Linked DNA regions of Homo sapiens: region 1 is linked to region 2. The links come from fine-mapping of genetic effects on gene expression. Tissue or cell type: whole blood. Region 2 holds a variant in brackets; the other region holds the start of a gene. All regions are shown on one strand. Distances are from middle to middle.

The links. PIP is the estimated chance that this variant, and not a neighbour inherited with it, causes the effect.
Region 1: ANK1 starts here. The variant in region 2 is fine-mapped to the expression of ANK1 in whole blood (INTERVAL, PIP 0.90).

The regions. Positions count from the first base shown.
Region 1 is chr8:41,794,910-41,799,909 of GRCh38, reverse strand. ANK1 (ankyrin 1) reads left to right here and starts at 2,288. Exons shown (of 43, transcript NM_000037.4): 1 at 2,288-2,398. The coding sequence starts at 2,372. It overlaps LOC105379392 (a long non-coding RNA gene), which reads right to left and starts at 2,132. Exons shown (of 3, transcript XR_949708.3): 1 at 1,531-2,132; 2 at 1-916. RefSeq lists an enhancer at 16-1,215.
Region 2 is chr8:41,693,231-41,698,230 of GRCh38, reverse strand. ANK1 (ankyrin 1) reads left to right here. Exons shown (of 43, transcript NM_000037.4): 24 at 110-188; 25 at 1,458-1,555; 26 at 1,644-1,868; 27 at 2,900-3,054; 28 at 3,428-3,639; 29 at 4,129-4,333. Among named protein-coding and RNA genes, the nearest start is that of MIR486-1, 35 kb to the right of the region's middle. The variant C/T (reference allele first, on the strand shown) is at 1,914.

The DNA.
Region 1 (5,000 bases), 100 kb before region 2:
GGGTGAATTTGAGGGTCTCAAGCACATCGTGAGTCCGGCTCCCTGAAACCAGGCTGCTCCCCGAAACCAGCCCAGCTCCCTTTCACCTGGGTGTTGGTTTGCCCCTGAGCATGCCTGGCCTTTTCCTCCGCTTCCTGTATCCAAGGGAGAGGAGCCTTGTGTTGCCTGGGGTGACCTAGTTCTGGGGTTAAATTCTGAAATGACCTGGCTCCCAGAGAAGCTGTGCTGGCCCGCCTCAAGCCTGAGGGACTGGGGAGGCACCATGTTGCCCACCGGAAGCACTGCACAAGGAACTAGCAGGATCCTAAGCTTTGGAATTATACTCTCTACCTACAGGATGTTTCCTACATCATGTGACACTCTGTGTTCATATGCTGGTGTTCTCTCTTCTGAGTGTGGGAACTCCAAAGAGAAAAATATTGTTCCTCCTCTTCCTTGGATGGTGAAACGGCTTCTAGCTTTCGTCACTCCTGCTGGTGACAACCACGGGTTCGTTCCAGAAGCCATTACTGAGCACTTGCTATGTTCTGAGTCAGCTAATATTTAAGCTTCATTCTTGCCCCTGAGTGGGGTGCATGCCACGCTGCCCCCTCATGAGTGAGCCTGGCCCAGTATGTGTTGCCAAGTGAGATCATCTGTCCTTCGGGGAGGCTGTCTGAAATCATGTCTAATGTGACCTGCTTCTTTTACATTTTTTAGCTTTCTGGCTCCCTCAAAACAAACAAACAACAACAACAACAACAACAAACAGCCATTGTTTTGAGTCCAAGTGCTTCAAAAGGCTCCTGCTTAAGGACTGTGCTGTGGTAGACATGGCGGTTCCTTCTAGCCCACATGTGGCCTAGAACTCTGTCAGCTCTGTCAGGCACTAGTCCCCGGGGAGATGGCCCAGCGTCCATGGGGTGCGCTCCAGCTGCTGTGGAAAACACAGACGGGTCATGAAGCTGATCTCGGTGGCATCTTTCCGCAGCAGCTGTGCCCTCATGGCAAGGCCAGTTTGGTGCTGCGGGAAAGCTCTAAAGCCAGATGGCGGCCTCGTCAGGGGACCTGGACCAGCGTGGGCCCAGCAGGAGGCCAAGCATCACGTGAGGAAGGCTGGAGAGACCCTTCTCAGGGAGGACTGCACCAGAGGCCCCCAGCGGTGACACCCACCCCTAGAGGAAACCATGGAGGGAGACAGCCCCCACCTTAATGGCACCACCCCCAGGGTCCAGGGAGGCTGCCATGCCCCTGGCCCCGCAGCTCAGCTCCTCGGGGTCACCTGTTCCCTCTGCCAGCCACCAACTGCCATTCCAGGATATGGTGTTCTCACTGATAAAGCCATTCTGGGCAGATGACATCTCATCCCGTTGTTGGACGGGCGGACGTTGCAAAAGGCGGCTTCCTAGGCCAGGCCTGCAGGAGCTTGGCCTGGGATGGTCCAGCCTGGCTGGTGGGCAGCCCCGACCTTCTGGCAGCTGCGGGACCGCCTGGGCGCCCCCCTGCCCGCGCCATCCCACGCCCTCCTAGCCGCTGTTTGCGGTGACTCACCTCGGTTCCCAGGAACGTTGTTATTTTTGGCCCTGGTGTTATTAAGATTGTGCCCAGATTCCCTGCAAATCGGCCACTAAGCAGCATGGGGCCCTAGTGAAAGCACGCGGAGAACAGAGGGGGCAGCGCGCTTCGGGAGGCTCCCCGGCCTTGGAGAGCTCCAGCCTCCCCGGGGGGCGGAGGGGCCGGCCAGAAGGACTCCTGCGCCCCACACCCGCAGCGCCGACAGGGCGTGCGCCCTGGCTCAGCGCTCCCCGACTGCTCCCAACCCAGGGGCACCCAGGGCCGAAGCTTCCTCTACAGAGCCTCCCCCTCCTTAGGAAACAAAACAAAACAAAACAAAAACCAGGAAAGGCAAATTGTGTAGATGCCACTAAAAAGAAATTCCCGCTTAGTATTGCTTCCCCTGCACCCAGCGACTTTTAGACAAGCAGAAGAGGAGATGCCCTGCCCGCGACTAAACCGGACTCCCTTTCATTTACTACCCTCTCAGCGTGTGGCCTGATGTCCAACTCTGGGCTCTGAACTCAGCTCTCCCCGGCTGCTCTCGACCCCGGGGCAACCAGGGGTCCGCGCCGGCCGAGGCCTGGGGAGCGGGGCCTCCTGGGGTTGGGGGAGGAGGTGCTCTTGTAATCTGCGGTCCCCAGGCGGGCGCCACCCCTCCGCCCGCCCGTGCCGGGAGCGCCCGGCCCGACAGCAAGCGCCTCTGGGGCCGATAAGGCCCTCGGGGGCCTGGCCCGCACGTCACAGGCCCCGCAGAGGCTGCGGTGAGTCCGCCAGCCCCAGCTGCTCCTCCTCAAGCCCCCAAGGCCCTTCGGCGGGCCCCTGCTGAAAGACCGGCATGCCCTATTCTGTGGGCTTCCGCGAAGTGAGTACTGGGCGGCTGCTCGGGTGGACGGGGAGATGTCAGGAGGGGGCCACCCAGGCCGCGCCAGTAGGCAGCACGCGAGCAAGAGCAGCTTTGCACACCCCACCCGCCTCGCCTCCCCGTGGGCTCCCTGCCTTAGCATAGCGGCACATCGACCTTGTAGCTGAAGGCAGCAGGTGGACTCTGCCCTACTCGCTGAAGCCAGTTTCATATTTTTTACATCCAGAGATTTGCTGTCAAATTGAGTTCCAACTACCTGGGTCTCTGAATTATGTCCTGTCAGCAATAGCGCTGGGGAGGGATGGTTTTTGGATTATAGTCCAAATCTATTGAGATCTTAGAGGCTTTCCTTTGAGTCTGCTAAACTGCGTTTTGTAGGTGTGTTATTACAGGCTGCGGGGTGGGCCACCCGGCTAGGGGGCTGTCACTGTCATTTGGAAGGGGACTTTGGCTTGTTTTCTCAAAGACTCACGGAGGCCGGTGGTCTCATGGTCACACCTGCTCGGTTCTTTTAATTTATGTTGTTAATTCATGGAGAGAAATATGTCTACGAAGGAAGGGAAAGAGCGGCGGCGTGGCCTGGGGAGATAGGCTCTCATGGATATTTTTCAAGTGATAATGGCGCGTTAGCAAGGCCACTCCAGCCTTCTTGTTCTCCCTGTGTAGATAGAACCCGTCCTATCTCTGCCTGGCAGCACGGCCAGCCTGTGCCATGTGTCAGTGTCCTTTGTTGGGTACGGTTCTTAGTTTAGTGATGGATTCAGAGCCCAGAGTTGGACATCAGGCCACACACACGCTGAAAGGGTAGTAAGTGAAAAGGAGTCTGGTTTAGTCGCGGGCAGGGCATTTCGTCTTCTGCTTGTCTAAAAGTCGCTGGGTGCAGAGGAAGCAATACTAAGCGGGAATTTCTTTTTAGTGGCATCTGTACAATTTGCCTTTCCTGGTTGATTTTTTTTTTTTTTCTAAGGAGAGAGAGGCTCTGTAGAGGAAGCTTGGGCCTCCCACTTTAGTTCCACCAGCGGCAAGCAATTCAGGTTAAGTTGGTAGAGTCTTTTTCCTCTTGTGGCACCACTCTAGGGCAGAGGTTCAGGGTGAGTCTTGGAGACCTGATCATAGCCAACTTTGGAAGGAGGCAGGTGACTGCAGGTGTCCCGTGCAATGTGTGAACTGTCTTCAGACTCAAACGCAAGTGTTTTGCAGGAATAAGGAATGGCCGATGGAAAAAATGGGTAAAATTAGCCTTCTTTCACAAATCAAGTTACAGCCTCAAGCCACTTTTCTCTGTGTCTCAGTTTTCTTGTCTGGGAAATGGGTCTGCTGTGAGGCTGAAGTGAGTTACTCGGTTATGAAAACATTAGCAAAGGGGACAGAGGCTTGAAGACGTTTATTGTAACCAGGATCCATAGACTCAACTCACCCTTGACTTTATGGGTCAATTATAATTAGTTTCTTCTCTGTTATTGGTATATAATAATTTACATATTTGTGGAATACATGTGAGTGTTTGTTTCATGCATAGAATGTGTACTGACCAAGACAGGGTATTTGGGGTGTCCATAGACTTGAATGTTTATCATTTTTACGTGTTGGTATCATTACAAGTCCTCTCTTCTGGTAACTTTGAAATGTACACGGTATTGTTGCTATTATAGTATAGTCACCCTAAGCTGCTATCAAACACCAGAACTTATTTCTTCTATCTAACTGTATGTTTGTACGCATAACCAATCTCTCTTCATTCTCTTGCCCCCCACCCACCCTTCCTGGTCTCTGGTATCTATTATTCTATTCTCTAGGTCCAAGAAATCAACTTTTTTAGCTCCTATGTATGACTGAGAACATTCAGTATTTGTCTTTCTGTGCCTCGCTTATTTCACTTAGCATAATGACCTCCAGTTACAACCACGTTGCTACAAATGACATGATTTCATTCTTTTTCGTGGCTCAAGCAGCTGTAATTAGTTTTTATATTTATTTATTTAATAATAATTATTATTATTTTTAAGACAGAGTCTCGCTCTGTTGCCCAGGCTGGAGTGCAGTGGTGTGATGTTGGCTCACTGCAACCTCTGCCTCCTGTATTCAAGCAATCCTCGTGCCTCAGCCTCCTGAGTAGCTGGGACTACAAGTGCGTGCCACCATGCTTGGATAATTTTTGTATTTTTAAGTCTCAGTCTCACCATGTTGGCCAGGCTGGTCTCGAACTCCTGACCTCAGGTGATCCACCCGCTTCAGCCTCCCAAAGTGCCGGCATTACAGGCGTGAGCCGCTGCGCCTGGCCTATAATAGTTTTTAAACCCAGGTTGCCACCTCTCACCCCAAAATGGTTCTGCCAGTGTCTCTGCAAAACCAGCTGACTTATTTTGAGATTAATCAAACTGCAATATATTTAGAAAAGCAGGGTTTCAGTTGTTGGTGTTGCCAAAATGAACAGAGAAAATAAGAGTGTTTTCTAAAGGTGAAGTGACTAAAAACCTTTGTCCTCCAGGTCTGTTTAACAACCTTTACGGCCAGGCACGGTGGCTCACGCCGGTAATCCCAGCACTTTGGGAGGCCAAGGCAGGTGGATCATGAGGTCAGGAGTTCGAGGCCAGCCTGGCCA
Region 2 (5,000 bases):
TCAGGCTCTGGAGTGGAAAGCCGGAGGGAGAGGCTTGGAGGCAAGAGGAAGAGGAGCTGTGTGCACATGTGGATCAGCCCTGTGATGTTCTGGTGTTCTTGGCACGCAGGGTGGAATCTCCAGCCATCCCCAGGATTCCCTGTGCCATGCCTGAGACAGTGGTGATCAGGTCAGAAGAGCAGGAGCAGGTGAGAAGCTCCTTCTCTGTGGTTTCCCCACATGGAGGGCATGAAAACCCTGGGACAGTGATTGTTGAGGGGTGGCCTGTACGTAGCACAATAGGCACTAATAGCTCACATGCCACTCACTGTCCAACTGGCATTCCACGCTTGGACGCCTCATAATGGTGCAACATTGGTGGCGCTGGGTGGGCGGCGTCTGGAAGAGATGGTCAGATGGGGCCCTTTCCTGTGGTGGCGCAGTCCTTGGATGCAGCCCAGGACAGCAGCAGTGAGAAACCAGTGGGTCCTTGACCAGCCCACTGTCTTCAACTCTTGGCCTAGGGTAGGAACTCCAGCCAGCAGATGTTTACTGGATTCCTGCTGTGCACCCCGGACAGGCTCAGGCAGGAGGGCTGGACACCTGCCTCCTGGGAGCCGGGGCCCAACCAGAAAGAGTGGACTCGGACGCATGAACCCAGTTAGCACAGAACCAGGAGGGAGAGCGGGGGAGTGCTCCACTGTGTGGTGTGAGTGCTCACAGAGTGCAGAGCAGGGAGGCCCTAACCAGCCCCAAGGTGGCTGGGAGCATCTGTGGAGGAGGTGAGATGTGGGGAGTGGAGAGGATTAGATCAACAAGGGCGATGGACAAGGACGTTCTGGACCGGGGGAAAAGCAAATGTGAAGATCTAGAGAGCAGCAAGGCTAGGTTCAGGTGCTGCTGGCTGTGCCAGGGCAGCCTGGCATCCCTGTAGTTGCAGCGTTACCCTAAGGCAAGTTCCCGTTGCACAGGTGAGGAGGCAGGAAGCCCCACAAGGGCAGGAGTCTGTTGTGTTCACCTCATGGGCTCCAAATGTCCACAGGGCAGGTAGTCCGCCCACAGCTAACTGGCGAGGCGGTCACGGTGCTGGGATGCAGTGCCCACCCTAGAGGAAGTTGGCCTGCTGAGGGCAGGGCTCCCCATGGGCAGAGCTGGAGAGAAGGGGGGCGGGTCTGCAGCAGGTGCAGCGGGCCTGGGGCCTGGAGCCAGACTGAACAGTGAGGACTGGCTCCACCCATTCCAAGGCTCTGTCCCAGGGTCTTGAGCCAAGGAGAGGCATGGAGGTGGGAGGAAGCTCGTGCTTCCTTTTAGACCTCAGGACGGCCTTGTCTGACAGGGCGGTGGGGTCCCGTGGGAGCACTTTCTCCACGTGGCACCTGGTTTCTAGCGGCAAGGTTCTTCCAAGCCTCCACGCCCTGGCACGGCATCCAGCTGGCCCGGGAGGAGGTGGGACAGGAGGACCCTTTCTCTCTCCTCAGGCATCTAAAGAGTATGATGAGGACTCCCTCATCCCCAGCAGCCCGGCCACCGAGACCTCAGACAACATCAGCCCGGTGGCCAGCCCGGTGCATACAGGGTGAGTGGCGGGCGCAGGGCTCGGGGACTCCTGTCTCCATCTCCGAGAGGGGATGCAGAAGCCCAACGTGCATCTGCCCCACTCCTAGGTTTCTGGTGAGCTTCATGGTTGACGCCCGGGGTGGTTCCATGAGAGGAAGTCGCCACAACGGCCTGCGAGTGGTGATCCCGCCACGGACGTGCGCAGCGCCCACCCGCATCACCTGCCGCCTGGTCAAGCCCCAGAAGCTCAGCACGCCGCCCCCACTGGCCGAGGAGGAGGGCCTGGCCAGCAGGATCATAGCACTGGGGCCCACGGGGGCACAGTTCCTGAGGTGAGCTTGCGCGGGCAGCCCGTGTTCTCCCCTGTCCCTGTGCCA[C/T]GGAGGCCACGCCATTTCCATCTGTCCTGATGGGGAAACAGAACTGGGTGCCCCTCCCCTTTCCCTGACTTTTCCTGACACACGAAGGTGTCCATAGCCCTGAGAGGGCTTACAACTCTCAGATCTCAGGTCGGGCACGATAGCTCACGCCTGTAATCTCAGTGCTTTGGGAGGCTGAGGTGAGAGCATCGCTTGAGGCCAGGAGTTCGAGACCAGCCTGGAAAACATAGCAAGACCCCGTCGTTGTAAAAAATAAAAAGCAAAACCAAAAAAACAACTCTTAAATATTGTGTGACACTAGAGACAAGGCCACTCTGAAGCCTGAGGGTCTGACCTTTTATGCACTGAGAGTTCCCAGTAAGACGGCCTCCCTGGCCGTTTCCCCTGAGGACGAGGGAAGTACCCGGCTCCAGAGGCCTGTGCTCCACTCCCTTGAAGCAGCCTGGGCTCCTCCTGGAGCTTTGCTGCCCCTCAGGCACCATGGGTGTGTTGTGGGGACAGGCCTGACCAGGAGGCCCTGCCTTCTACCTCTGTCCGCCCTCCTGGCCCCTCAGAGCGGTCACCACCATTTGCAAAGCAGCAAGTTTTCTCGTTGACGTTTCTTTGTCCTCAAAGTGTCCCTCTGAAGGAAATGTCATTATGGCCAGTTGATAGATGAGGTCACCCGTCTAGGGATGTCAGGTGGATTTTTGGAATCAGGTGCAAGGACAGGATCTTTAGGTCGTAGGAGCAGAGCCCGCATGAAATGAGACTGGTCCTGCCCTCACTGTCACTGCAGGCCTGGCGGGGAGCAAGCGGGGCCATGGGAAGCCCTGGGGAACCTCCCCATGGGTCTGGTCCACTTAGAGACCTGCCTGCAGGTGGGGCCTCCACGTGGCTGCGGAAGTGCCTTATCCATCTGGGTGGGAGCCGGCAGCCCCATCCCTCCCTGTGCCCTGCCTGCCTTGTATGAGCACCTCCCCACCACCACTGTGTCCTTGCCTCAGCCCTGTAATCGTGGAGATCCCGCACTTTGCCTCCCATGGCCGTGGAGACCGCGAGCTCGTGGTTCTGAGGAGCGAAAACGGCTCCGTGTGGAAGGAGCACAGGAGCCGCTATGGAGAGAGCTACCTGGATCAGATCCTCAACGGGATGGACGAAGGTAGGGGCGGGGGATCCCAGGGCTGGGTCCCCTCCTTGCGGAAGAGGGGTTTGAGTTGCACCTTAAAGGTGGTCTTTGAGGGCCACCTGAAGTTTGGGAAGCCCCAAGAGGCTGAGAATGGCCTGGTGTGGACAAGCCCTGGGTCCCCAGGATGTGTGAGAGGATGCTCAGCGGCTGCCTGCAGCCGCATCTGCTCTGCTGGGCCTCTGGGCCTGGGCACTTCTTCTGGCCACTTCTTCTGGCCACTATGCCGCCCGGCACCTGGGGAGGGTGTGTGCACTGGGTCTTGGGGACAAGGAGACTCTGGGGCCCCTGGAAGTCCTGAACCTGTGCCTGATGTGACCGGGGTGGTGGCCTGTGTGTGTGATTCCAGAGCTGGGGAGCCTGGAGGAGCTAGAGAAGAAGAGGGTGTGCCGAATCATCACCACCGACTTCCCGCTGTACTTCGTGATCATGTCACGGCTCTGCCAGGACTACGACACCATCGGTCCCGAAGGGGGCTCCCTGAAGAGCAAGCTGGTGCCCCTGGTACAGGCAACGTTCCCGGAGAATGCCGTCACCAAGAGAGTGAAGCTGGCTCTGCAGGTGACAGCCCTCCTCCCCGCCAGGTCCTGGGGGTGGACTGAACTCCAGGCCTCCGGGAAGGCCACCCTCTTCCCCAGGACATCCCCACACTTTTGTCTGGTGCTTTGAAATGCCACAGTGGAGATCTGAGTTTAAAGCTCAAAGGAGAGTTAAGTGGGAAGGGGTGAGGTGGAAGCTCCCTGATAAGTTGCAGAACCCCTGGTAACCCATCAAGCTGCACGGCCCAGTCTGTGCAGCATGCAGGAACCGCATGACCTCCGGGAGTTGACTGTGGTGCTAGCAAAGATGCACCAGCCCTGGGAGTAAGAAGCAGAGGAGAAGGGGAGAAAGGGCTCAGGAAGGCAAGCTCCACCGTGTCGGTTCTGTGGTCCAACAGCAGGGCGGGACCCCGTGCACTGACGGCCACTCTCACCAGGCATGGAGCTGCCTCCCGTCTGATTAGCCCCTCTCCTGCTTGGGCCTGAGTGTCCTGCCTCTGTCATTTCACAGGCCCAGCCTGTCCCGGATGAGCTTGTCACTAAGCTCCTGGGCAACCAGGCCACATTCAGCCCCATTGTCACCGTGGAGCCCCGGCGCCGGAAGTTCCACCGCCCCATTGGGCTTCGGATCCCACTACCTCCTTCCTGGACCGACAACCCGAGGGACAGCGGGGAGGGAGACACCACCAGCCTGCGCCTGCTTTGCAGCGTCATTGGTGAGAGGGGCCCCTGCCTCGCTTCTGTTCTCGGCTGCTGCAGTGCGTCTGGAACACAGTAGGGGGGTGACTCGAGAAGGCGAGGCCAGCAATCCCCTTAGTTTTTGTTGACTTCCCCGGGAGTGAGGTGCTCTTCCAAGAGATGGAAGGATGATGTATCTGCATAAAAGTCCATGCCCATGTGGTGACTCACGCCTGTAATCCCAGCACTTTGGGATGCCAAGGCGGGTGGATCGCCTGAGGTCAAGAGTTCGAGACATGGAGAAACCCCGTCTCTACTAAAAATACAAAACTTAGCCAGGCATGGTGGCATGCACCTGTAAGCCCAGCTACTCCAGAGGCTGAGGCAGGAGAATTGCTTGAACCTGGGAGGTGGAGGTTGCAGTGAGCCGAGATCATTCCACTACACTGCAGCCTGGGCAACAAGCATGAAACGCCATCTCAAAAAAAAAAAAAAAAAAAAAAAAAAAAAAAAAAAAAGTCCATGCCCCTGGGGAAGAACTCTCCAAGCCCTAGGAGGAGGGGCATGCAGGTTGCTAGGAGGAAGAGCAGCGGGGTGAGGGTAGGGTGCCCAGGGCTGCAGACAAAGTGAGCTTCACCCAGTCTCACCTTGCACACCACGGCCTTAGCATTTTAGTAAGCTCCATGCTTACATCCTGAAGACTGT